2 separate regions of the Homo sapiens genome follow, and region 1 is linked to region 2. The links come from fine-mapping of genetic effects on gene expression. A gene starts in region 2. The other region holds a variant in brackets. All regions are shown on one strand. Distances are between the middles of the regions.

What was found. PIP is the estimated chance that this variant, and not a neighbour inherited with it, causes the effect.
Region 1: its variant is fine-mapped to the expression of PRKCE in sun-exposed skin (GTEx, PIP 0.96).

Annotation. Positions count from the first base shown.
Region 1 is chr2:45,901,639-45,904,546 of GRCh38, reverse strand. The region is part of intron 2 of PRKCE (protein kinase C epsilon); the gene reads right to left. Among named protein-coding and RNA genes, the nearest start is that of PRKCE-AS1, 230 kb to the right of the region's middle. The variant A/C (reference allele first, on the strand shown) is at 1,230.
Region 2 is chr2:45,650,280-45,653,187 of GRCh38, reverse strand. It overlaps PRKCE (protein kinase C epsilon), which reads right to left and starts at 1,513. Exons shown (of 15, transcript NM_005400.3): 1 at 740-1,513. The coding sequence starts at 1,087. LOC102724965 (a long non-coding RNA gene) reads left to right here and starts at 1,973. Exons shown (of 2, transcript XR_005647119.2): 1 at 1,973-2,908. RefSeq lists enhancers at 835-1,455, 1,944-2,238 and silencers at 1,614-2,083, 2,254-2,353.

The DNA of each region.
Region 1 (2,908 bases), 250 kb before region 2:
ACGCCTCTGCCTTCTCAAAAGGCTCATCTCATCCAGAGCCAGCACAGAGACATGACTTTTTAAACCATTGTTTCATTTTCACATGTGATATAAGTCTGTGTTCTCCATTACAAATACCAAAAGTGAGAGGTGGTACTGTTAAGAAACCTCATCTTCTCCCCCTGTGATTTGCCCTGGATGGGCACGTGCCACCCCCATAGTGTTCAGCACAGGCAGGGAACTTGGAGTTCTTTTGGTTTCAAGACTTCTCGGTTCGCACGCAACCGGCTTCTTTCTAAGAAACTGTTTTGTCTGTTTGTTTGCATTTTTAAGAGAATCTAAAAAGCTGAAAAGCTTTTTTAGTAACATTTTGGATCTTGCACTTGATTTAATCCCAGCATATTGGGAGGCCGAGGAGGGCAGATCACTTGAGATCAAGAGTTCGAGACCAGCCTGGCCAACATAGCAAAACCCTGTCTCTACTAAAAATACAAAAATTACCTGGGTGTGGTAGTGCGTGCCTGTAATCCCAGCTACTCCAAAGGGTGAGGCACGAGAATCGCTTGAACTCAGCAATGGGAGGTTGCAGTGAGCAGGGATCATGCCACTGCACTCCAGCCTGGGCAACAGAGTGAGACCCTGCCAAAAAAAACAAACAAACAAACAAACAAACAAACAAAAAAAAACTGCCAGGCTACAAGCTCTCATATACAAATGCTCCCAAACTGAGGGGGATATGATGAAAGTGATGAGGTGGGAAGAGGGTTTGAGGATGTATTAACCCATTTCCAAGAAGGAAGACCTGGGCTCTCTAAAACTTGGAATCATTCCTCACTGCCTTGCCTTGTACATTCTACATCACTTTCTGGTCTGTGTGTCTAGGCTTCCCTGAACATCTTACATGGGGTTACCAGACAGGAGATAAAAATACAAGATGACTGTTTAAGTTTCAATTCCAGAAAAAATAATTCTTTATAACTATGTGACATGCAATATTTGGAACATAGTTATACCAAAATATTATACAGAGTTGATCTGAAGTTCAAATTTAACGGTGTCCTGTATCTTACCTGCAACCCTAATCTTGCTGGGTCTTTCGGCCTCATCTTCCCTCACAGCCCCAGCTGCTGCAACCCTGTCCCATGGGGATGGTGACGCCATACCATTGACACAAAATCCTTCCCTGTATCTCAAGTGAAGAAAAGGGGATGCTCTGTCTATGGAGTAGCCATAATATTCACAAAATTAGT[A/C]TTTTTTAAAGCCTGTGTTATGTGCCTGTTAATGTATGGAGGAATAACTTCTGAACCAAGATGGCCTGAGGGTATTTCTTGCCAGGCAGGGATCCCTTGGAGGACTCCTCATTCACTGACTTATTTAATGAAGTCCCTCTGACTTCCTTCCAATCAACTCCCTCGGGCACTGAGACCACTGAAAACATGACTATTGATAGTGATTCACACTAAAACACATACTGAAGTGAAATCATTTAGACTAGCATTTCCTCAACTCAATTATATTATTTGGAACTAAACTATATTCACGTAGGATCCTCCTGGGGGGAAAATACATAATTCCACAATCAAATAAGCAGGAAGTTGTATGCTATATATGCCCATCTGGGAAAGTCACTGTACATCAGCATACAAAGGCCTGAGTAGTCTTGCAGTCCAGAAACTCCCAGTGCTCACTCAAGCACTATCCAAACTTATTTGGCCACAGAGCCCACTGAACTCCAGTTCCCTTCTAATAGCTATTAACCCTACAGAGAACACTTTGGATATCAGAAATGTAAATATTTTTGAAACATAACTAACCCTTGAGTTACTGTTTCTTTCTAGCCCCTACTTTAGGTCTGGGGGCTGGGTTCTTCAGAAGTCTTCCTAGCCAAGCTCCCAGACCAGTGTAGTCACAGTCTTTCTTGAAGACCTTACCCAAGTTCCAGCTCCAAGAACTTCCCTGACCCTCCTGGCCTCTCCTGCCCACTCCAGCCAGTTCCTCATTTCTGACTTTTCCCCAGCACAGCTTTTCACACATCCCATGTCCTCAGGATGTTAATCCAAATATCCTGATTTGACTTTTGCTAGTATTTTCTGATTACTTCATTTCTATCTTAGCTCCTCAGGCAGACTTGGAGCTACCTGTGGGCAATATCCTCCTGTTGGATCACAGCCCCTTAGTTCAAGATGGGCTGGGCATTGGCAGGCTGGGCATTGGCAGGCTTTTGGTAAGAGCTTATAGGCAGAATTCTGTTTACTGTATGTATTACACTCATGTTCCAATTACTGCAGGTTTCAGGAACAATGGATGTTTTCTAAGAGAGCCGTGAGCTGGCTTCTCTCATGCACTACGAGAGATGAGAGATGAATCCCAAAGTCGCCTTCTGGGCCCATATTGCTACACCTCCTAATCATCACCATGGCTGGGCAAACACTCCAATTCAAACCCAAGTGGGAGTGGGAAAGACCTGAGAGGGTTGGAGATTTTTATGAGGGTGAAATAATTTCCTAGTTTGTAAGTCAAAATTCCCAAGGACTGTGGGATCTACAACCTAGAAATTCAGATGATTTCAGTTCTTCTGTCCTGGAAAATACCACTTCACTATCCTAAGGCAAAGATGGCCATGTACTCTTATAAAAAGTTATTGCAAAATGACCTGCTCTTAAACTCTGAAGTCACCATACTCTTTTACCGCACCTGGCTGGACTTCAGGGTTTTACAGACATCGTGTGTGAGCTTCATCACAAACCAAGGCCAGCACGGTACAGACTTCCAAGAATTCAACTGCATTTCCATATTCTTCAGGGAACTTTAATCTTCTACCCCAAGACTGAGTTAAAAAGAAAAATCTGAGCAACAACAGGAGAGTCTCTAAGATACATAATGGGAAATGTAAACACATTGTACGAATCAGCTGTGCACACACTTCATC
Region 2 (2,908 bases):
ACAGTATCTTGACAATCAAAACAGAGAAACAATATAACTTTAAATAAGATTCAAAGCACTGACTTCCAATTACCCACAAGCAGAACCCTTCTTAAAATGCAACATTCATTCTGCATGGATGGGCAATGAATTGGACAAAACAAGCTCGACTGATGTTTCTGGGACCATAGAGGAGACATCCTGGAGGAGAACACATTTTTTCTACTTGTATGTCAGAAGATGAGCTAACCACCATGCAAGAGAATAGAAACAAGCCAGCTTCCTCTCGGAGGGAAAAATAAAGCAACTCCTCGCTCGGCTAAGCAGGACAAAGCCAGGACGTGCAAGAAGCCTTCAGTCAAAGGCTCCACGTGCCTTTCCAAGGACGGAGGGACCCACCCACACACAATCACACACAGCCAGCCCACCACGCGCCTGCGGAAGAAAGCCGGGTCCTCGGCCAACCTTCAGCACCAGTGGCCCAGGCTCTCCCAGTTTGCAAACCTCCCGCAGCACCCACCAACTGGAGGGCACAGAGGGAGCAGAGGGCCACATCCTCTTTCCAAGTCTCATCTTCCTCGCCAATGCCTGTTTCTCCCCAACTATGAAGTGAAGTGTACCTCCCCAAGGAAACTGAGACTTACAGGCACACACACCCCAGTCGTCAATAAGTCCCGGAGCCCTACGATCAAGACCAGCGAGTCTTTCCCCGGGACCCCACAACCGGGTTCCCGGAATGACGGGGAGGCGCCGCACTCACCCAGTCCTCGAAGTGGCGGCTCCCGTTCTGCAGCAGCTCCTCAAACTGGATGGTGCAGTTGGCCACGAAGTCGTCGTAGCCTATGGGGGCATCGTGAAAGACAGCCAGCTCGATCTTGCGTCCGTTGCACACATCGGTGACGAACTCGTCGTGCCAGGCCGGGCTGTTGGTCTTCTGCTTGGTGGCCGTTTGGCCGATGCGCGAGTCGTCCACATTGAGGGCAATGTAGGGGTCGAGAAGGAAAGTCTGCGGCCGGGGTCCCACCGCATGGCGCAGCGACCAGGCTGTGGGCTTCAAGCTCACGGCCTCGCAGATTTTGATCTTAAGAAGGCCATTGAACACTACCATGGTCGGGGCGGGGAGTGGGGGCCGGGGTCACTCCGTCTGCCCCGAGGGCAGGAATGAAGAACCGACGGCCCGGCACTCCGAGCCACAGGGACTCTTGGGTCCCCTTTCGCCCCACCCCGCACACTCCCTACACCTTGTGGCGTTGCGCCCTGGCGCGGGCGATTCTCAGCCAGTGCATGTATTTCCTCGCCGGGTTCCTAACGGAAAACAGGGAGGGGGGAGAGCTGGGGGATGTCCGTGTTTGGAGCAAGTCTCTCCCCCCGACCACCAGCTGCACCTCCAGAAGAGAAGACGAGCTGTCGGCTCCGCTGCAAGCCGCGGGGGCTGCCTCGCCGCCTCGCTGGCTCTCCGGCTCCGGACTGCGGGAAAGCGGGCGCCGCGCCCGGCGCTTACCTACCTTTCCGAAACATAATCCCGGGAAATTTCGACTCCGGGAGGGGGATGGGGCGGTGGGACGGGGCGGGGACGAGAACCGGGGGCGCAGATTTCAACCCGGATCCTCTTCGCACACTCAGCGCCTGCCTCTGACCGCGCGGGGCGGGGGGGTGAACGGAGGGATGTTCAGTCTATCCGGAGGGATGCATGTCGAGAGGAAATGGTCCTCCTCGGAGCCAAATTTTTAAAAATCCACAAGCCCCACGGCCAGCCGGGGCCGCCGCCTCCTGGGCGAAGCAGCGCCGCGCCGGAGCCGGCGATCGGGAGGCGCCAGGAGCCCGGAATCTCACATCCGCGCGGGCTCGGAGTCCGGGCGGCCGCCGATCCGGCTCGGGGGCGCAGGCCAGCACCGGGCGGTGCGCAGCGCGGCGGCGGGGCAGGGACTGCGACTCAGCGCGGCCCCACCTCCTGGGCGCCGGCGCCCGCCCTCCGCGCTCCCCGCGTCCCCGCTCTCGGCTGCCGCTCGCTCGCCGCCCGCCAGCCCGCGCTCCCCCGCGGTCTCCTCTCCCTCTGTCGGTGTGCGAGCGAGTCTCCCTCCCTCTAATGCAGGAAATGCGCAAAAGACGTCAGTGTGTGTGAGTGTGTGTGTGTGAGTGTGTGTGTGTGCACGCGCGCGCGCGCACGGCAGTGTTTGGGGAAATAGAAAGTTTTGCCGGTTGGGGGAGCAATACGGAAAAAGTGAGCCGAGGAGACAACGGTGGAGAGCTGGCGAGGCTGCCCGGGGTCGCAGCGGCGGGCGGGTCAGCCGGGGGGCGGGGACCCCGCGCGGGACCCCGGGGTGCGGCGGCGCTGGGCTGGATGCGCGTGCCGGGGGCCGTGGATGGCCATGGATGGGCCCCGCCGGGCCGCGTATCTCTCGGGGACCCTGCGGCCAACACTGTCTTTTAGAGCCGGGGATGGGGGAGTGGAGGGGGCCCTGTTGCCCTAGAGGCCTCGGGACCCTTCCCTTGCCCACCCCCACTCGGGCCGCGGCGGGCAGGAGCAGTCTGCGGAGTTCTGGCCCATCTGTCACTCTGTCCCGGGACGCTGTGATCCACGGCGGTGGGGGAGGGGGAAGGGGGAGGGACAAGCATGGCTCGGGTGAAGTTTTAAACTCTGTTCTTCTCTCTTGCCTTTCTTTGGGGACATTCTCCCCTTTGGGATCTGTCCTGGACTTCGCAGGCTGCGAGAACTTGTTGACAAGTGAAAGCTCGGTAGAGCCCCGGCTTGGTTTGTGGTCTGCTTATTTTTTGCAAAGTGACTGTTCCTGTTTGCGCTGGTCCTTATCGGTGCCCCTTTGGGGGACTTCGGCACTGATCAGCGCGCTGACAGCCGCCGTCCGGGCTGCGGGAAAATGGGGCGCGCCCTCCGGGGGGCGAGTGGCTGTGTCCTTGCTAATTTCCTCCG